2 separate regions of the Homo sapiens genome follow, and region 1 is linked to region 2. The links come from fine-mapping of genetic effects on gene expression. Tissue or cell type: thyroid. Region 2 holds a variant in brackets; the other region holds the start of a gene. All regions are shown on one strand. Distances are between the middles of the regions.

Evidence for each region. PIP is the estimated chance that this variant, and not a neighbour inherited with it, causes the effect. A credible set is the group of variants that fine-mapping cannot tell apart.
Region 1: it holds the start of LINC01659, and the variant in region 2 is the best candidate, but not a certain one, in a credible set for the expression of LINC01659 in thyroid (GTEx, PIP 0.74).

Annotation. Positions count from the first base shown.
Region 1 is chr22:23,428,508-23,439,105 of GRCh38, forward strand. LINC01659 (long intergenic non-protein coding RNA 1659) reads left to right here and starts at 5,057. Exons shown (of 3, transcript NR_110538.1): 1 at 5,057-5,554; 2 at 6,053-6,223; 3 at 6,317-6,564. RefSeq lists enhancers at 2,733-3,578, 7,145-7,836.
Region 2 is chr22:23,512,790-23,523,387 of GRCh38, forward strand. LINC02557 (long intergenic non-protein coding RNA 2557) reads right to left here and starts at 545. Exons shown (of 3, transcript XR_938072.2): 1 at 487-545. RefSeq lists a silencer at 8,993-9,352 and enhancers at 9,698-10,264, 10,265-10,598. The variant C/T (reference allele first, on the strand shown) is at 4,826.

The sequences.
Region 1 (10,598 bases), 84 kb before region 2:
TCATCACTCTAAGTTTTATCAATTTTTTTATCTCTCTCCTTTCAGATCTGTCAGGTTTTGCTTCCTATATTTTTAATCCCTATTTTGGGGTACATATGCAGTTAAGATTGTTATATCTTCTTGATCACTTGCAATTGTAATTATAATTATGCAATGTCTGTCTTCATCTCTTAAATATTCTTGTTCTGAAGTCTGACTTGAGTAATATTAATATAGCCACTCCTGCTTTCTTACAATTTTAATATTTATATATACGTATCTATATTTCTAATCTTTTAATCTACCTGTGTCTGTATATTTTAAATGGATTTTTTGAAGATAACATCTAATTGAATCTTGCTTTTTTATTCAGACTGATAATCTATGCCATTTATATTTAATATAATTTTTATGACATTGAGTTTAAATCTGCCATCTTGTCATTTGTTTTCTTTTTGTCTCGTATATTCTTTTTTTCATTTTTCTTGCCTCTTTTGGGCTGTTTTTTGGTATTCCATGTTTTCTCCAACATTGGCTTATTAATTATACCTCTTTGGTTTTCTTCTGTTTTGGTTTAGTTATTGCTCTAGGGCAAGGGTCAGTAAACCTTTCCTGTAAAGAAACAGGTATCAAATATTTTAGGCTTTGGGAGCCATACTGTCTGTGTCACACCTCTGCTGTTGTAGCACAGAAGGAACTGTTACATAATGAGCTCAGATGTGTGCCAGTAAAACTTTATTACAAAAGCGGGCGGTGGGCCAGAATTGGCCCATGGGCTGGAGTTTGATGACCCCAGCTCTATGTCAGTCTATTTTCAAATAATCTTACACTAGTTAACATAGAGCATTTTAAAAGTATTTTTCCATTTTTTCTTTTTATGTAATTTTTGCACAAAATTTTTTTTGTGAAATTATGTTTTCACTTTAGAGAGTACATTATCTTCTAAATTAAAATGATTCAAAAATGCTTGTTGAAGTGTATTCACGTATTTAAATACATGAACTGTATTCACGTATTTACTGCTTCTGGCAGTAGTGTTCCTTCCTTTGTGTTGATCCAGATTTCCATCTGGCTTTTTTTTTTCTTTTGCAGGAAGCACTTCCTTAACATTTCTTATATTGTTGTCCTGCCACTAACAAATTTTCTCGGCTTTTCTTTGTCTCAAAATGTCTTTATTTCATCTTCATCTTTAAAGGATATTTTCACTGGATATAGAATTCTGTGTCGACAGTCATTTTTTTTAAGCATCTTAAGAACGTTTGTTTTGTTGTTTTCTGGCTTGCATGGGTTCTGACAAGAAGTCTGCTAGTAGTCTTATCTTTGTACTTTGTATATAATATACACCCCACCCCCAGCTGATTTTCTTTGTATTTATCCTGCTTATGGTTCATTGAGCTCCTTGGATTTATGGATTTATAGTTAGTCAGATTTGGGAAATTTTGGCCATTGTTTCTTTAAGTATTTTTTCTGTTCCCCTCCCCTTTTTCCAGTACTCCAGTTTTACATATTTTAAGTCACTAATATTATCCTAATTACTGAAGCTTTGTACTTTTTGTTTTTTGGTTCTCAATCTTTTTTCTGTGCTTTAATTTGGATAGTTTCTGTTCCTGTCTTTAAGTTCACTGACCTTTTATCCTGGAGTATCTAACCTGCCCTTGATTTCATTCAGTGGAGTTTTAAAATTTCATTTGTTTTTCATGCCTAAAAGGTCTATTTGGTTATTTTTTTCATATCTTTGGTTTCTCCTTCATTTTTGTAGTCTGTTGCTACGTAACAACTTTCTCCAGAAGTTAGCACCTAAAACAGCAGGCATTTGTTGTCTCGTGAAGTTTTTGAAATTCAGGAACCCAGAGCAGTTTAGCTGGATGGTTTTGGCCCAGATTCTCGTCAGAGGGTGCAGTTAGGGGCTTTTGTCCTGGGTTGCAAAGCTGAAGGCTTGACAGGGGCCAGATGATGTGCCCAAATTCATTTAGGTGGCCCTTGGCAGGAGACTTCACTTTCTCTCCATATGGACCTCTCCATAGGTCTGCTTGAGTGTCCTCACAACATGGCAGCGTTCAACGCAGAGTGAGTGTTGAATGAGTTAGGAAGAGACAGACAGAGCCAGCCCAAGATGGAAGCTACAGTGTATTTTATAACATAATCTTGGAGTTGATCTACTATCACATCTGCCTTTTTTTTTTTTTTTTTTTTTTTTTTTTGAGACAGAGTCTTGCTCTGTCACCCAGGCTGGAGTGCAGCAGCACTGTTATAGCTCACTGCAACTTTGAACTCCTGGGCTCGTGATCCTCCCGTCTCAGCCTCCTGAGTAGCTGGGACTACAGGTGCACACCACCATGCCTGGCTCTGCCGTTTTCAATTGATCATGTAGGCCAACCTTGGTATGATGTGGGAGGAGACAGCACCAGGGTGTGACTGCCAGGAAGCAGGGTCGCTCAGGGCCATCCTGGGAGCTAGCAGCCATCCCCTTCACTGTGTTCAGGTTTTCCTGTAAATTCTGCAGCATATTTATAATTGCTGTTTTAAAATCCTTGTCTGCTGATTTCATCATTTCTGGACTTATTTCTATTGGCTGAGTTTTCTCCTAGCTATAGAACACATTTTCCTTTTTTTGCATGCTTAGTAATTTTTGATTGTATGATGGTAATTGTTAATTTTATGTTAAGTGTATGAAAGGGTGCAAATTTCCTTGTTCTTTCTTTGAAGAGTATTGGGCTTTTTCTGGCAAGCAGTTAAGTTATTTTGGGGTCAGCTTGATCCTTTCAAGAACTGTTTTCACACTCTCTTGGGGCTTGTATGGATTTGCTTTTATTCCAGGGCTAGTTTAACTCTGCTACTAAGACATGACCCTTCTGAGGTTCCTAGCAGATGACCTGGGTGCTCAGCAAGAACACTTGCTCTGGCTGGTCGGCATGTGCCTGTCCCCGGTCCTGCGTGACCTCTGGAGTTGTTCCCTGACAGCTCCCCGATGTGCTTGGTTCAGCCTTGTGGAGTTGCATGCTGTGTGCGTAGAGTGTATTACTCAGCAGCTCAGCGAGACCTTTCTCCAGGTTGCCAGAAGCCTTCTGTGCACAGCTCCGCCCTCCACAGATCCTCCCTTCCTCTCAGCAGGACCATCATGCTGAGCTTGAGCTGTACCCCACGGCGCCAAGCCTGGAAGAGACCACTGGGTAGAGCAAGGGGTGTTCAGAGGTTCACTTCATTTGTTTCTCTGTCTTTAGACAGCCCAGTGTCTGTGAACAGTTACTGTGTGTATTTTGTTCATTTTTCTAGTTGTTTACAACATGAAGGCAGACCTGGTCTCAGTTGCCCAGCATGACGTCCCAGATCCACATGTGAGGAGGAGCAGCAGCATGGGGGTTCCGCTGCGAGCTCAGGGCAGGGGTCTGTATTCCAGGAACTTGGGTGGGCTTCATAGACCCCTGTCGTTCCCAGAATTATAGGCAGCACGGAGTGTGCTTGTGCACACTTTCCTGGGTGGAGAGGCACACGGCACCTCACGCATTGAAGCGTTGTGGCCCCTCGGGGAGTTAAGACCCAGTGGGAGGAGGACCAGGGCGGGGGGCCTGGAGATGGAACCGCACCTTCCCATGCTGCCTCGCTAATTCTACAAATACTGTTGACATCCTGTGCGTGTGGCCTTGGGCAGAGGGGTAAAGACCGGGCAGCCCTGGCAGGGGCTCTGGGGCCAAGGATGTCACCTTCTGGGGGTAAGAGCGAGATGTCCTTCCAGAGCCTGGGTTTTGAGAGGAGGTCACCCTGGCCTGGTTAGGATGAGTTGTCATCTTTTAGCTTTTGGTTTGGTTTCTGTTTGTGTTTATTTTCACTTTTTGCCATGGAAAGTTTTAAGCATATATATAAAAATATGGAAAACAGCATCGAGAAGTCCCTGTGAGCCCATCCCACCCTCTTCCCCCTTCCTGGATTATTCTGAAGCAAATCCAAGGTATCGTAATCAATTTAGCTGCAATCATTCAAGTATTGTAGCATGTGTCTCTGAAAGGCTGGTGACTCCATAAAGCCCTAACCAGAGTCCTTTTATTGTGGTAGGACCTGGTCTCGGTGGGTGAGGACAGTGGGGAAAGGGGCAGCGTCCAGCAGGGTGACCACCTGTGCGAAGGAGAAGAGAGACAAAGCACCTGGTGTTGGACCAGACAGGGGGCTCAGGACCTTGGGCTGCAGTTGACCACGTGAGGCCCTTAGCCTCCAGAGAAGGAGCTGGTTTAACATGACCCATGGTTGTGGAGACCTTGCTTCCTAGGTGGGGCTGCCGTGCCCCTACCATCCTCCCACATAAGCACGTTACAGAGATCTGTGGAGCCAAGGGGCTAGTTCACCAAAATAAGACCTGGCCGTGTCCACCACTCTGCTGGTCTGGCTGGGGCTGCCGTCACAGAGCCCCACAGCGGGGGCTGAGACCGCAGATGTGTGTCTCACACAGTTCTGGAGGCTGAAATCTGAGATCAAGGGTCACCGGAGTTGGCCCCTGGGGAGGACTCTCCTCCCGGCTTGTGGACGGCCGCCCCTTGTATTCCTGTGTGGCCTTTCTCCTGTGCACTTGGAGAGCTCTGGTGCCCCTGCTGGATCAGGACCCACCCTTATGACCTTCATCAGACTTGACTTCCCTCCTTAAAGGTCCTATTTCCAAATACAGTCACATGGGGATTAGGTTAGTATCTAAATTTGGGGGACACAGTTCAGACTGTAACAGTTGCTCTGCACAGCCCCGCTCGGTTACATCATAGATGTTTGCACACATCTGTGCACGTGAACTACGTGTTATCTGTTGCACATGCAGCGTTACTAAACAGGGTTCCCTTATACCTCCCGGGGTTCTCGGAGTGGCGTCTTCTCTTTTGCTGGGAACCTTGCCGCCTTTCCTCTCCCTGCCCCTCCCAGCCCGTGGGCCACCTGCTCTCTTCCACGCCTTCCTTTCTCCTCTGCTTGTGCAGCGGAAGGTTCTGCCAGCAGGGGAGTTAGTGAGCAGCCAGTGGAGGGTGTGCCCAGCCTTCCTGCTGCAGACCCGCCCCCAAGTCAACACGGACTTCCCTCCCTGCGCGCCAGAACTTTGCGTTGTTCTTAGTGGCATCTGGGGTCGAGGAGGGCGACTGTCAGCCAGTTGGGGGATGTTTTCTTCTTGGTCTCTCGGCTTCTGCTTCCCTGTGAGCTGGGCAGCCTCAGCCCAGGTCCTATCCGGTACTCAGCTGGCCTCGGTGTGCACAGCGCAGGCTTGAGTGCAGCCGTGGGGGCGGGCGGGGCAGAAGCAGGGCCCCTGGGAACAGCTGAGTCTGAAGGGTCAGAAGCCACGGCCCCTGTGGGGGGCTCTGGGGCAGCCAGGGGAGCTGCTCGTTAGTCGTCTCTGGGGCAGAAGGAAGGGACCTTCACCTGGGTTGGGACTGGGCCTGGGTCCCCAGTCTCACAGGGAGCTCGTCCTGATTGTACCTGCCCGGCTGTGACGGCTGAGCCCGGGCTCCTGGAGGCAAGGCCACCTCAGGCCTCCAGGGCCGGAGCCGCAAGGAGCTGCTGGGTTTCCACAGGGCCACGGGGGCTGCGGCCACACGGAGCGGGAGCACAGGTGGGAAGGGTGTCTGTGAAAAATGAAATCTGTTGCCGCTTCCTCTAGCTTAATTACTGGCATGGTGGTTGCAGAGTTGAAATGCAGCTTTAAAAGCCTTTGTGAGTAATTAGTGTCAAACACACAAGATCTACAAAGCCATAAACTCACAGCTTGGTGATATTACCAAGTACTAATTAAGAAAGAAAAAAGAAAATTCCCTTTCATGATCAAATTTTGAGCCCTGCCAAAGATGAAAAACAAGGCAATTTGCAGCCGATGGCGACGCCGGAGGGTAAGTGGCGTCCACAGGAAGATGGCGGCCGAGCGCGGCGAGCAGGCAGGGTCTGGTTGAGGGCTGGGGTGGTGACGGCGTGATTGTGCCTGGCTACCGGGTTCTCAGCCAGGCAGCACCTGATTCCCAGGAGAGATGGAATCCCAGCTCAGAAAGGGGAGACTCATGCGAGGGCAGAGGCAAGGCACCCGCCCAGAAGGATTGGGGGTCTCCCCATTTCACAGGTGGGGACACTGAAGCTGAGCTCACAGCCAGGAGAGGGACAGCAGAGTGACGGCCGAGACCATCTGCACTGCGAGGGAAGCAGCGCCCACCTTCCTTGGTGGTCCGGGAAGGCCGGACCGGCCCCTTGGGTCCCCACTGGCCTCAGCCACTGTGGGCTCGTCCAGCTTCAGGTAGGCGCCCGGCCACTCACCTGGGAGGCTCTGAGAACGACAGCTTCTGTCTCGTGAGTGACGTGGTGCCCGCTTTCATCCTGGGGCCCACAGCTGCCAGGAGAGGCCAGGCCGAGGTCAGGAGGCTCAGCAGCTGGTTCCATGACTTCCTCTTCGCTGAGGAGGTCAGGACAGAAGCTTCTAGATGACAGGCCGCCCAACTTGGTATAAAACAGCAAATTTCTGTGCCTGTGCTGTCGGGCTGTGAATGACTTCTCGTCTGTTTCATGAGATGCAGCTTCAGCCCAGGGAGCCATCAGATGCAGCCGGGCGAGACGCGGAGCCAAGAGCTGTCCTCGCCCCCCATGTGAGTGACTGGAGAGACGAAATTCTCAAAGTCTTGTCACTTACGGGGATATTTTTAACCCAGGACCAGGGAAGCACAGCTCTCATTGGTGGCCGAGTGCTCTGGCGCTTGGGCAGTGGGCAGCAGCCAGGTTATCGGGACGTGCTCAGGCCCAACAGGACCCCCAGAGCCGCACCTGCCCCCCACAGAGTAGAGCCGGCCCGGGAGCGGCCTTGGTCACATCTAATCCCACCAGCCGCCGACAGTGGAGAGCTGTGCCTGGCCCAGAGATGTGGGCATCACATCCAGGCTGCAAACACACGGGGACCACCTGGCCCCGCCAGGGTTCGCTCTATCCTGGCTTGGCCTGCATGGCCTCTCGCCGTCTGCATGGTCCACTCACCCGAGTCAGGGCTGGGGCATGCAGGGAGTGTGCAGTGACATTGGGCAGAGGGAGGCTGCTCAGGTCCAAGTAGGCAGAGAAACCGCATGCCCAGGCCGCTAAAACCTTGAACTGCAGGAGCCCTGAGCTGCTGTTGCTGTTTTATTGTTTTGTTTTGTTTTGTTGTCAGATGGAGTCTCATTCTGTTGCCCAGGCTGGAGTGCAGTGGTGCGATCTTGGCTCACTGCAACCTCTGCCTCCCGGGCTCAAGTGATTCTCCTGCCTCAGCCTCCCGAGTAGCTGGGATTACAGGCACCCGACACCATGCCTGGCTTTTTTTGTATTTTTAGTAGAGACGGGGTTTTGCCATGTTGGCCAGGCTGGTCTCGAACTCCTGAGCTCAGGTGATCCATCTGCCTTGGCCTCCCAAAGTGCTGGGATTACAGGTGTGAGCCACCGCGCCGGGCTTGTTTTACTGTTTATGACGCGGCTCTGCTGCCGCTAGGACAGATACTTGTACAGCCCGATTCAAAGACTGTGCAGAGGCGTCTCCCAGATACCCCAGGGTGCACTGCAGTCAAGGAAGGCTGCCTGGAGGAGGTGGCCTGGAGCTGGGGCTCACAGGTGAATTAGAGTTTGTCTGGCTGGGTTGGGGAGATGTTTCTGGCCTCAGGATCTCACGTGCTCATGCTCACCGGCTCCAGGGCACCCAGCGTGCAGGGAGAGCAGAGGGGTAGGCCTCGGGCTCCAGGCCAAAGTTGGGGAAAGAGAGTGTCAGACCTGGGCTTGGGGGACGACTCTGATGTCGTCCTCATGGGGGATGGTTGAGTAAAGGGTGGGGTGTGGCTCACTCGTCTGGCCCTCGCCCATGTGGAATGCCCACCGTGCTGGGCCCCGCTGCAGGTGCTGGACGCGCAGCAGTAATGCGGGGGTCCTGCTCCGCCTGGGCACATCTTCCAGCAGGGATTGGAGGGCCGATGGCCAGGCAGGGTCTGTGCTCTGTGTCTAGGTGGTTACGGGGGGAGGCGGGGAGCCTGGGCCTTGGCTGTGGGTGGACCTGTGGCTTGCTGACCTGGTGCCCAGCTGCCCCACCTCCCAAACTGTGAGAAGCCAGGACCAGCCCCATCCTCCATCCAGATGGTCTCTGACGTTGCCCTGGGAGCCGGGGGGGAGGGGTGGGGGATGTTCTAACTGAAGGGCCTGGGCGGCCTAGAGCCCTTCTGTATCTTCTGGCCAATGGTTTTATCTGGTCCACTGCCTCCCAAGCCTGCACATCCCATCACGCGCATTTAAACTGTTAAAAAGTTACTCCCTTGACTAAGCCGGAAATGCTCTCTATGGCCCTGTGGATCTGCGTCCAGTTCCCCACGACATTCCGTTTTTGGAGGCTTTGTGAAGAGGCTGGGGGTTTGTCAGCCCCACTCGGAAGCGAACAGGCTGGTTCCCCGCCCCAGTCCCAGCTTCTCCTGCGGGCAGCTGGCCTGAGAGCCAAGCACTCCCCAGGCCATGGCACCGGGTGGGCAGGACGCTTTCCTGCCAGGCAGGAGGCAGAGCCCTCCCTGGGACCCCGAGTGTCTGTCCTGGGTGGGGACTAGACAGTGACCACCACCTCGACCCCGGGCAAGCCCACCTAGCCCTGCCCCCCCACCAAGCCCTGCTCCACCTACACGAAGCTGCGGCCAGCCCCTTTTGCCCCCAACCTAAATGACTGAGAAGTCTGTTAGGGAGGGCCTCCCTGTCACTCTAAAGAGCAGGAACAGGACATCCCTGCCCCAGGGCACGGAGGCAGCTGGCCATCTGCGAGTGGGACCCGCCACGGTTGGCCAAGCTCAGGCCATATGAGCTGGGACTGGCAGGCAGTTCCTGGCTGCCTCAAATCTGGGGTCCAGACTCTCTGCTGACCTCCCAGAGCCCGGCGTGTCTTTGCACACTCTGTCCTTGTCCCCAGCCTCCTCCCCGCCCCAGGGTGTGCCTGGGACTTTAGGTAGTCTTACCTGTCAGTCATACTTTCTTCTCGGCCAGGGACTGTGGACGGCAGGACGTTCACCCCGTGGTCAGTGGCTGGGCCTTTCTCATGAAGCAGCTTGATTGAGATGTCATCTACAGAGCGTGCAGCCATCATCACAGTCTATCTTGGAATGAATGCCTTTATCACCCTGGAAGGAAACGTGCCCCATAGCCATCCCCTCCCAGCCATCGGCAGCCACTGTCTGTGTTCTGTCTCTAGACTCCCCTACCGGCAGTGTTGCAGGGAGATGGGCTCAGCGATGAGTGGTCTCTGGCGTCTGGCGTCTTTCACTGAACGTAAGGTTTTCACGGTTCGCTCACATTGGACCACGTGCTGACGCTCCATTTGTTACTGATGAATCATACAGTCTAGTGTGTGGATAGACCATGTTGTTTATCCGTTCATCCATTGATAGAACATTTGAATTGCTTCCGTTTAGGGCTATTACACACAGTGCCGCTGTGAACATTCGTGTACAAGCTTGTGTGTGGAAATGCATTTTTGTTTCTCTCGGGTGTACACCCATAAGAGGAAGTGCCGGGGTCACGTGGTAATTTAACGTTGAGCTTTGTAAGGAGCTGCCTCTTCTCCCAGGTTCTCCCCGTCCTCCCCAACACGCGCCACTGTCTGCTTTTATGATGCTTTTCCATCCCAGGGGCTGCGGGTGCCGCTGGGTTACAGGGTCCGTGAACCTCCTGAGATTCAAATGCAAAATGTGAAGTGGGTGTTGGCGTGGGTTTCGGGTAGAGGGACTGCAGCCCCTGCACGGGGTTAGGAATATGTTTCCCAGTCCAGGCAGAGCTACGCAGGAATCGCCTCTAGACACCCAAGAGGGAGCAGTTTTGTCTGGAGAAGTAGCCCACTGCCGTGTTTCACCAGGCTGGCCTGTGATAGCTGGACCTGCCCCGATGCCACCACCTCCTCCTGCCAGGGCTTCCCTGTTTGCTGAGTCTGCGTTATTGATGAGTCATCGTCTATATACACGCACCCGTGAGGCCGTCAAGGCAGTGAACAGACCCTTCGCCCCCAGATCCCAGGCCCTGTGCAGCCTGCCTTGCCCCTCCCACTGCAACCCGACCCCAAGCAGCCACTGATCCTTCTGTGTTTCCTGTCACCACGGGTTCATCCATGTTTTCTAGAGTTTCTGTAAGTGGAATCACGCAGTATCTAGCCTTTCTCGTCTGGCTTCTTCCACTAAGCGTAGTTAGTTTGAGATTTATCCATGTTGCTGTGGTATCAACAGTTTATCCCTTTACAGTCATACAGATAGACCACAGTGTCTTCATCCATCCAGATGTTGACGGGCATTCCGGTGGCTTCCAGCTTGGGGCTGTTGCAAATAAAGTGTACAGTGAACATTCACATGCAAGCTTTGCACGGACATTTATTTCTTTTCTCTTGGCTAAATCGGAGTGGAACTGCTTGATTGTGTGGTCGGTGCATGCTTAACTTTACAAGAAGTTGCCAAGCTGTTTTCCAAAGTGCCTGCACCATTTTCCATTCCTATCAGCAGTATAGGAGACTTGTAGTTTCTCCACACGGTCACCAGTACTTGACATGATCAGTCTTTTTAATTTCAGTCCTTCTAAGAGGTGACTGATGGCGTCTCATTGTGGTTTTAATTTGCATTTTCCTCATGACGAATGACACTGAGCATCTG
Region 2 (10,598 bases):
ATTCTGCAGGGACTCATCCTGGGGCAGGTGGGGTCAGAGGGCAGATGGCCAGGAGCAGAGCCAGATGGGAGCAACAGCCTTCCCTCTGCCAGGACAGGGAGAGACCTGGCTGCCTCACAGTGAGAGGTCTGGCAGCCAGGGAGGGCACTGGGGACAAGGGCCCAGCCGGGCACCCTATGGAGCACATGACCCCCACCTGTCCATGGAGCACACGACCTCCACCTCCAGCTGCCCCTGTGCTGCAGACAACTCCCAGGGTGGCGAGGGTGGCATCCTGATCCCAGCAGCGCCTGCAGGACTGGGAACCTGCTGCCCACCCACCCCCTGCCACTTGCTCTCCCTTCCTTGCCCAACCCCAGGAGCTCAATGCCTGCTCAGGGCAGGAATAAGAGGCAGAGGAGGGGTGAGGAGAGAAAGGAGTCATTAGGGGCCTTGCTGATCCTTCGTGGCGCCTCCATGTCCCTATCCCTCATGCAAAGCACTAACCTGGAGGCGGAGCATTTCATCGAAGCAAAGCATCTCCTGCCACCAAGCACGTCCACGGTATTGGGGATTGATTGCTTCTATCCTCCAGCCCACTCTACGGAGCACCCACCGTGTGACAGGCGCGGCGCTGGGCAACGAGGATAAGAAAATGAATAGGCCACGACATGTGCGCCTGAGAAGTCACAGACTCAGACAGGAGACAGGCTCGATACCACACACCAAGGTCTGGATGCACACAGGACACTGAGTAACTCCTGCAGGGTGAGCGGGTTTCCAGGGCACTCGACAACCGGCAGAGTCTGGAAGCAGCCTGGAGGGGAAAGGGCATTCCTGACGGGGGCACAGCAGAAGCAAAGGCCCAGTGGCATGAAAGACCAAGGAGTGTTGAGGGAACAGAGAGCAGCTTGGTGTTGGGGCGGCATCAGCGGGTGGAGCTGGAGCCGATGAGAAAGGATAGGCCAACTAGGGTTCAAGTGGCCAAGACCTTCTATGCCCTGCTCTGCCAGTTACAGCCAGCAGTGGTGGTAAGCACAGCCACCCGGCACTGAACAATGGCAGTGTGGCCGGCACTGTGCTAAGCTCATCTCAGTCACTCGCTCACCACATCCTCCAACGAGCCCATGAGGCCCAGAGAGGTTAGGCGAGTTACTGGTGGTCACACAGCCGATAGTGGCCAGGCTGGAACTTGGACTCAGGCTCCCAATTCTCACCCACCAGCATGTGCTGCCTCTGAGGAGTTTGGGGTTCCCCTTCAGGACAACTGGGAGTCACAAGGGATTTTTAAGGGGGGTGGGTAGCAGAGTCTCAGTGCCCTAAATCCCCAAGTCATGCTCATGGAGAAACTGCTGCATCCACCTGGGAGACGTGGCCAGTCTGTTTTTAGGGTCTGAGGGTCACCTTGGCCTCTCCGGGAGCTGCCCTGGTTTCCCCAATGCTCCTGAGTACTGGGGCTTGGCCTGCGTCTTCTGCCCCAGCCTGCTGCTCCTGGGTTCCAGTCTTGGAGCCAGGGGTCATCACTGCCAGGGCCTCTTCAGAACTCAGGCGCCCACCTATCAGGGCCTCAGCCCCTCCAACACTCCCTGGGGCCCCCACATTGCCCACCCTCTCTTCCCTCTGCCCTTCCTTGCTCGAGATAACACCTGGGATGGGGGTGCATGGGGAAGCGCCCCCTGATGGAGCTAGACAGCCCTCGGGAGGGAGTTAGACAGCCCTCGGGAAGATCCAGCAGTGGTGGCCTCTCCTTGCCCTTCCCCATGTCCTCCCTCTCCCCTCTGCCCACCCAGCCTCCCACCACATGGGGCACTGGAGTGCTCCTTCCCACCATCTGCCCTCCTGGGCTCCGCTTTCATTCTGCTCCCCCGACCCCAGGTCTCAGCATTGCAGGCATCACAAGACAGCGGATTCCAGAGGCCCCAAAACACTTCCATCCTCCAAGCACGCACTGAGCATATGGAGAAGCTGAGGCCCAAGCAGGGCCAATGGCAGAGCAGCTGGAAGCCCAGCTCTCTTGTGCTCTTGCTGCAGCTCCAGCTCCTGGTCGGCCGTCCACCAGGCATCTGCTGAGCGCGATGTGTTTCCATTTAGGGGCATCTCACACTTGATCCTCACTCCAGCCCAGAGGAGGCTGGGTTAAAACAGGAAGGCTGGGCTGTCCAGCTCTAGCTCCTTCTAAAAATGCAGTGAGTCCCATGTTGGCATCTCTGCTTCGCAAACAGGTAAAACGAGGCAAGCAGTAGGTCAATGACTTGCTGTCTCTGGTCGTGTGTCAGGCAACCACAGTCACACAGTCACGAGGGTCTCCTGTCTGAGATCCTGCCTATTCTTTTTTTTTTGAGACGGAGTCTTGCTCTGTCTCCCAGGCTGGAGTGCAGTGGTGCGATCTTGGCTCACTGCAAGCTCCGCCTCCCGGGTTCACACCATTCTCCTGCCTCAGCCTCCCCAGCAGCTGGGACTACGGGCACCTGCAACCACGCCTGGCTAATTTTTTTGTATTTTTAGTAGACACGGGGTTTCACTGTGTTAGCCAGGAAGGTCTCGATCTCCTGACCTCGTGATCCACCTGCCTCAGCCTCCCAAAGCGCTGGGATTACAGGCGTGAGCCACTGCGCCCGGCCAATCCTGCCTATTCTTTAGTGTTAAGGCCAGGAAATGCCTTAGTGTAGACTCCTCTCCCTGTGAATGTGGCAGACATTACTAATTGATCACAGCACTCTTTCCCTCTAAGCCGAGATGTAGTCTCAGAATCCTCAACACAGCCTCTATTAAATGGGGACCTGGCAATCGAGGTGACACCTACCTGTTCAACGCCCTCTCTGGAGGGCAGGATCCTGTCTTACCTAGTATCTTCCCCAGCACTTGGCTCAGGGCCCAACACGTGGCACAGATCACGGTAATAAATTTTTTTTTTTTTTGAGTTGGAGTGTTGCTCTATCGCCCAGGCTGCAGTGCAGTGGTGCGATCTCGGCTCACTGCAAGCTCCGCCTCCTGGGTTCACGCCATTCTCCTGCCTCAGCCTCCCAAATAGCTGGGACTACAGGCACCCGCCACCATGCCTGGCTAAGTTTTTGTATTTTTAGTAGAGATGGGGTTTCACCGTCTTAGCCGGGATGGTTTCGATCTGCTGACCTCATGATCCACCCGCCTCGGCCTCCCAAAGTGCTGGGATTACAGGCGTGAGCCACCTTACCTGGCCATTTTTTTTTTTTTTTTTGAGACAGAGTTTTGCTCTGGTTGCTCAGGCTGGAGTGCAATGGCACAATCTCAGCTCACTGCAACCTCGGCTTCCAGGGTTCAAGCGATTCTCCTGCCTCAGCCTCCCAAATAGCTGGGATTACAGGTGCCCGCCACCATGCCTGGCTAATTTTTGTATTTTTAGTAGAAACAGGGTTTCACCATGTTGGCCAGGCTGGTCTCGAACTCCTGACCTCAGGTGATCCGCCCGCCTCGGCCTCCCAAGGTGCTGAGATTACAGGTGTGAGCCACCATGCCCAGCCACAGTAATAAATTTTTATTGAGTGAGTGGGTGAACGAGTGGTAACCACCGAATGAACGATGCCTCCCAAAGCCAGTGGCTCTAACCAGCTTCTTTTGTAGCAACAATATGACAGCAATAATTATAACAGTAATGCCCCCAACAGCTGACATTTCCCGAGTCTCTAAGGTATTTCATCTGAGCTCTGGAATGCCATTTCCTCAGGGTCACACATCACAGGACAGAGCCAGACCCCGCCCCTGGCCTCTTGCTTCTGAGTCCAGTGCTCTGCCCCGGCCCCCACCTCTGCCAGGTCCCACCGCAGCTTGTCTGGGTCAATTGGAGCGGACCTGGACCTCAATCTGGGGAACCTGCAGGTGTTGGAGGCAGATCCCAGAGGCCGGGGTGGGAATGGGTGCTCGGGGGAGTAGTTAGTTGGGTTCTTACTCACCTGTTTGGGATTGTAGAAATACAGAATAGGAGACATCACAATGCACCACATTTACCATGACCTGACCCCCCTCCCCCCAAAATTCGTATGTCAAGACATAATCTGCGTCAAGCTTGGTGGCTCATGCCTGTAATCCCAGCACCTTGGGAGGCTGAGGCGGGTGGATCACCTGAGGTCAGGAGTTCCAGACCAGCCTGGCCAACATGGTGAAACCCCGTCTCTACAAAAAATGCAAAAATTAGCCAGGTGTGGTGGCACATACCTGTAATCTCAGCTACTCGGGAAGCTGAGGAGGGAGGATTGCTTGAACCTGGGAGGCCGAGACTGTAGTGAGTCAAGATGAGGTCACTGCACTGCAGCCTGGGTGACAGAGGGAGACCCTGTCTCAAAACAAACAAACAAAAACCAAACCAAACCAAACCAAAACAAAAAAACACCATTATCTGCAATGTGTATTAAAAGGTGAGGATTCTGGCCTGGGGCAATGGCTCACGCCTGTAATCCCAGCACTTTGGGAGGCCGAAGTGGGTGGATCACGAGGTCAGGAGATCAAGACCATCCTGGCTAACACGGTGAAACCCCATCTCTACTAAAAATACAAAAAATTAGCCAGGCATGGTGGGGGGGCGCCTGTAGTCCCAGCTACTGGGGAGGCTGAGGCAGGAGAATGGTGTGAACCCGGGAGGTGGAGCTTGCAGTGAGCTGAGATCGCGCCACTGCACTCCAGCCTGGGCAACAGAGTGAGACTCCGTCTCAAAAAAAAAAAAAAAAAAAAGAGGTGAGGCTTCTGGGAGGTGATTAGGTCATGAGGGCTCTATCCTCATGAATGGAATTCATGCTCTTAGGCAAGAGGCCTGGGGAGCCTGCTCACCCCTTCCACCACGTGAGGACAAGGCTATAAGGCATCTATGAGGAAA[C/T]GGCCCTCATCAGACACCGAATCTGCAGGCACATTCATCTTGGATTTCCCAGCCTCCAGAACTGTGAACAATAAATTTGTTTATAAATAACCCAGTCTAAGGTATTTTGTCATAACAGCCGAATGGACAAGCACACCCTTTTTTGAATATGTAGAAGAGAGGTCCCCAGGGAGTGTGATCGGCCCAAGGTCACCTGGCGGCCTTGGCTGAGGAAGGTGTGCAGAGCCCAGTGTCAGAGCCCCTGAGATGCCCTCTCCTCTCCTAGGGCCCTGGGCACTTGGGGTTAGTTGTTTTGCATCCTTTTGAGAATGTGAGTCCCTCAGAGGGAGGAACCTGGGCACGTCACATAAGGCTTGGCTCAAGATAGGTGCTCAGTAAACACTGGATGGACAGATGGGCAGAAGGAAGGAGAGAATGAAAGGAGGAAAGGAGGGAAGGAATGGGTAGCTGAGTGGATTCATGGATGGGTGGATGCATGGCAGCACGGGAGGGAGGATGAGTGATTGGGAGGATGGATGGATGGATGGATGGATGGATGGATGGATGAAAGGAAGTAAGCCAACATGGATGGAATGAGTGATGGAATTGATTGTCCCCTGCACCTGGAGGCTTCCAGTGACTCAGCCACAGAGGTCAGGAAGCTGGAGACATGAGCAGGCGGCTCACCCCATGGTCCCCTCCCCCTCCCCACCTGATATTTTCATCAGGACACATCTTCTGCACCAGGCCCCTCAGCTCCTGCCCTGCAAAGCTGCAGATGCCTCTGCTGGCTTTATTAAGGCCCTATTAGCCCAGCAGCCCCAGGGAAGGCTAAAGATGCTGTCACTGCAGACACTGGTTTGGTAGCCTCAGAGGAGCTCAGTAGGGAGGGCCAGGAACCTAAGGTTACAGCGAGGTCTTTAGAGCTGCACAGGCCTGCCTGGTTTAATCCCAGTTCTTCTGCTAATTGGCTGTGTGGCCTTGGGCAACTTACTTCCCTTCTCGGAGTGGCGGCTTCTCCACCTATAAAACAGGGTCATTAACGTGCTTGTTTGAGGATTTGCTGAGCTAAAGCATTTACAACACCTAGCCCAAAGTAAGCACTTGTTACATATCCCAGGATCCCTGGGAGCCAGGTCCACGGTGGAGCGCTCATACACAGCAGCCCCCATCTTTGGGATCAGGGAGGCGCTGTGACCCACCCTATTTCATGGATGAGGAAACAGGATAACAGGAGATGAAATGCTTGGCCAAAGCCACCGTGCTGGGCAGTGACAGGGCTGAGATTCAAACATGGGCTATGGAGACCGTGACTGGGCCACTTCCTGTTCCGGCTACTGAGCAGGAACAAAGCCTGGGACGGGAGCGGGGGGCTGGAGGGGCGCTTCTCCCACTAGCTCCTCAGAGGTGACAGCGCGGAGGAGGGGAGGAGAAGGGAAGCTGGGACAATCACGCTGATGTACGGCTTCCAGCGGGATTAACTGCACCATCTGGAGGCCACGCGTCCACCTGGGTGGGTTAGGAACCCCAACCCTTCGGTGTAAACGGCAGGGGGAGACTCAGTGGATGGCAGATCGGCTGGGGGCTGCCGGGTTGACTGTGGGGACCATGTGGGGCCCACCTGGCTTTCCTGAAGCCCCCATCTACCCCTGAGGATGTCTCCCACTGAGGGGGCTGGATCTCCACCAGACTCAGAAGATTCCACAATGGCTGGATCCAAGGGTTCAAATACAAAGGGAGGGCTGTGGCCTGAGCCACCAAAAAGTACAGGAGGTGAGCAGGAAGAGCGGGGGAACAACAGAGACAGGAGCAGCAGCTGGACACTCGCTCTCAGGGGTGTGTGATGGAGACTGCACCACCTTCCAGCTGTGTGTCCCCAGCATGTGGCTTCACTTCTCTGAGGCTCTGTCCCTTCATCTGTGAAACTGGGATCTAGTCTTTACCTCACTTGGTTGCTTTGAGGGTCGAATTAGATAAGGCAATGTACAGGCCTCGGTGGAGTGCCTGGCACTGAGTAAGTTCACAGTCAGTGGTGGTTGTGATTATTATCCCCATTTGCAAGATGGGAAGACTGAGGCTCAAAGCAGCTCAGGGACTTGTGTCGGATTACACAGTTGGTTGGTGACAGAACCCATGGCCTCTGCTTCTCCTGACCCCAGTCCAGTGCTCTTTTCCTGGAGGCTTGACCAAAGATGAACCTGTCCTGGGACACAGCCAGCCCCGGAGTGTCAGAGACCCAAGGTGGCCATCTTGGGTCACACCAGCTCCAATGACAGATTCCATGTTCTAGCACCTACTGTGCACCAGATGCCATGCCACGAGCTTCTGTGCACCACCGCCAGGAGCCATCACCATCTGTGACAGGGGCACTGCGCTGTCCCCGTCGTCCAGATGCACAAGCAGTGGTTTTGGCAGAGCCAGGATCCACTGCCAGGCCTCTCTGGTCCTGGAGTCCCCATTCTCAGCACAGGCTGCTGCCCGCTGGGCCAAGATGGGGCTTCTCTACACTGCAGCAACAGCTCCCAGGCGCCCTCCCACCAAGTGTTCATCTTCTCCTTCAAGGAGAGATGGCAATACAACACCCAGACTGCCACTGTGGACCCTAAGTCTTTCTTTTTTTTGAGATGGAGTTTCACTCTTGTTGCCGAGGTTGGAGTTTCACTCTTGTTGCCGAGGTTGGAGTGCAATGGCGTGATCTCGGCTCACTGCAACCTCCGCCTCCCAGGTTCAAGCGATTCTCCTGCCTCAGCCTCCCGAGTAGCTGGGACTATAGGTGCCCGCCACCCCGCAACCCGGCTAAGTTTTCGTATTTTTTAGTAGAGACGGGGTTTCACCGTGTTAGCCAGGATGGTCTCGATATCCTGACCTCGTGATCTGCCCTCCTCGGCCTCCCAAAGTGCTGGGATTACAGGCTTGAGCCACCACACCCGGCCCATGGACCCTAAGTCTTCTGGACACCAGACAAGCTTCCCCTACAGGGCGGGGTTCCTTTCTCACATCTAGAAAGAAGGAGGGAGTAGGAAAGAAGAAACATCAGCCCCAGCCCCTCCCTCCCTTCAGCCAGCACAGGGCCGCAGTGGGGGCCCAGGCTGGTAGGCAATGATGGCAGGGAGGTAGTTTGAAGCAGGGGGGTCCCCTTTCCCCGCACACCCTCCCTACATTCCCATCTGGTCAGCCTGCTCGCTGAAAGTTGAAGTCTGCCTTGTACAAAAAAACAAAAACCTCCCTTTCCAGTGTAGAAAGCCCCAGAGACCCGAGCCACTCTGCTTGCCTTCTCTCTTGGCCCTTATGGCCAGGACAGGGGCCGGGGAAATGACAGCTGCCCTGTGCAGGGGAGAGAAATCGTATTCTTTGGCTTGGCTCCTCTCTGGGGCCATACCCCAGGAGCAGCCCACGGAGCCGGTCCCCACTGACTCCCACCAGCCACTGCCGGGAGTAGGGCCAGATGGGGCGGCTCCGGATCCCGCCTCGCTCGGCAGGCCAGGCCCGGAGACCTGTCCCCCTGGTACCTCCCGGCCTGGCCATCCGAGATGACCCTTGCCCCTTCCCCACAGCCCAGACCTCTGATCCTTATTAAAAACAAACAAAATCTAGAGAAAAAAATTATCCACAAACAGCCTGAGAGATGATCGCGCGTCCCCGGCGCACGCAGACACGCACACATACACACACGCACACCCACGCGAGGTCGCCTCCACTTAAACATGCTGCTGGAGGGCGGGTTTTGTTTATGGAACATCCACGTTTCTCTCAACTTTGGGAGGGGTGAGGACTGTTTCAGAGTTTTCTGCTAGATGGGGGAGCCTGGGGCGGCAAGGATGTCTTTTCTGCTTTGTGCTCTTTGCCGGTTCAATGGGGGAGTGAGATACGTGGACAGAAGGACCAGGAAACCCAGGAAGGGGGCCCCAGGGCAGCACCCCCACCCCCAGGGGAGGTCAGGCTCCGGGAGGGCAGCCCCGGGGCCTGGGAAGCCTGGACTGCGCCTGAGCTCCGGAGGATAGGGCTGGTGGCCCGCGTCCCCTCGGCGACCCCGCGCTGAGCCCAGGGTCTGTAGTTCCGAAAACGTCTGGGACCGCTGGGCCGGGATCCCTACCCCCTCCTCTCCCAGCCTTCAACGCCTGGAAACCAACGAACCCGCCCGGAACAAAGGCAGGCCGGCTTTCCAAAGGCAAACAAAGAACAGTTTGTCTTTTCCCTCCCCCCACCACCACCCGAGCAGGCGGCGGGAATAGGCCTAGGGGTCCGGATGGCCCCGGCGCGGCGCGGCGCCAGGGCACTCCCACGGCGCCCCCCAAGGTCCCGCTGCGAATGCGCAGGTCGGGGCGCCGGAGGCCGCGGCAGACAGCGCGGCGCCACTCCGGCCCGGTCTCCGTGGCAACGGGCTGGTGGGAGGGGCCGGGCGGTGCGGGCGCCTTGGCCGCTGTTCCTCGCGGGCACGTCGCTATGGCAACGATGTTACTCTCTGCGGCCGCTTTCCGGCTCCGCTAGCTCGCCTGACCCTGGCCGCTCGAGCCCCCTCGTCTCTCACTTGCTGTGTTTTCCCCTCTTTTCCCGGGCGTCCTCCGCCTGTATCCTGGGCCCCCCAAGCAGCGAGCCCCGGTGCCCCCCACCCTTACCCCTCCTCCCCGGTGCCCAGGGCCCGGGAGGGAGATTGATGGGGTGTGCTTATTAAAAAACATTGTAACCGCCGGGCGCGGTGGCTCACGCCTGTCATCCCAGCACTCTGGGAGGCCGAGGCGGGTGGATTACAAGGTCAGGAAATCCAGACCATCCTGGCTAACACAGTGAAACCCGGCCTCTACTAAAAATACAAAAATTAGCCGGGCATGGTGGCGGGCGCCTGTAGTCCCAGCTACTCGGGAGGCTGAGGCAGGAGAATGGTGTGAACCCTGGAGGCAGAGCTTGCAGTGAGCCGAGATCGCGCCACTGCACTCCAGCCTGGGCGACAGAGTGAGACTCCATCTCAAAAAAAAAAAAGAAAAAACAAAAAACAAAAAAAAGAAAAAGAAACATTGTAACCGTTTCTGTTTCTATTACGTTGACAAGGGAGCGTTATTTACTGTTACTGTTTGCCCAGCAGGCTGTGCCGGGCGCGGGGGTCTCCCCCGGGAGCTCACCTTCAGGCCGCGGAGGGCGGGGGCCGGGCTGGGGCGCGGGCAGGGGGCGTCGGGCGACCGTGCACCCCGGGGCCCTGCTCCTCGCCCCTTCCCCCACCAGCCCGGCCGGGCCCCGCGGCTGGGTGCGTTGCCGCGGGGAGGGACCTGCAGAGGACCAGTGACTCTCCCGTTGTAGGAGAAAGGCAACAAAAAATAAAAACGGCACAGATGACTTCATTCTCGGGAAGGCTCGGTCCTACATGGACCAATTTCCTGGGGACCGTGGTGGAACAGCTTCGCTGCCGTTGGAAGCACTTAAAACTGAACCAGATAAAGACCAGGACATTCTGGGCCCTGCTGAACCAAGCCAGGGCAGGCTGCGGGGCGTGTGATTTCTGGCCAGGTGGGGAGGCGGGTGGCCTCCCTCCACCCTCAAAGGCGCCTGGCTTTCAGTGTCCCAGGATTCGGGGGCTTGTGGGGAGGTCTCCACTGGGATCAGATGGGCCTGAAGGACGCCCCCCACCCTCAAGCCCCTGCTGGGATGTTAATCTCATCCTGCTAATTAAAGTTTGTGATTCTCTCCCTAACTTAGCTCCCCACTCTTGGACATTATCAGCTCAATGCAAACAGTTGCTGCTCTGGACAGGGAAGCCAGAGGAAAAAGGCCTCTGCAGTACACGCCATAACATGGATTAAAA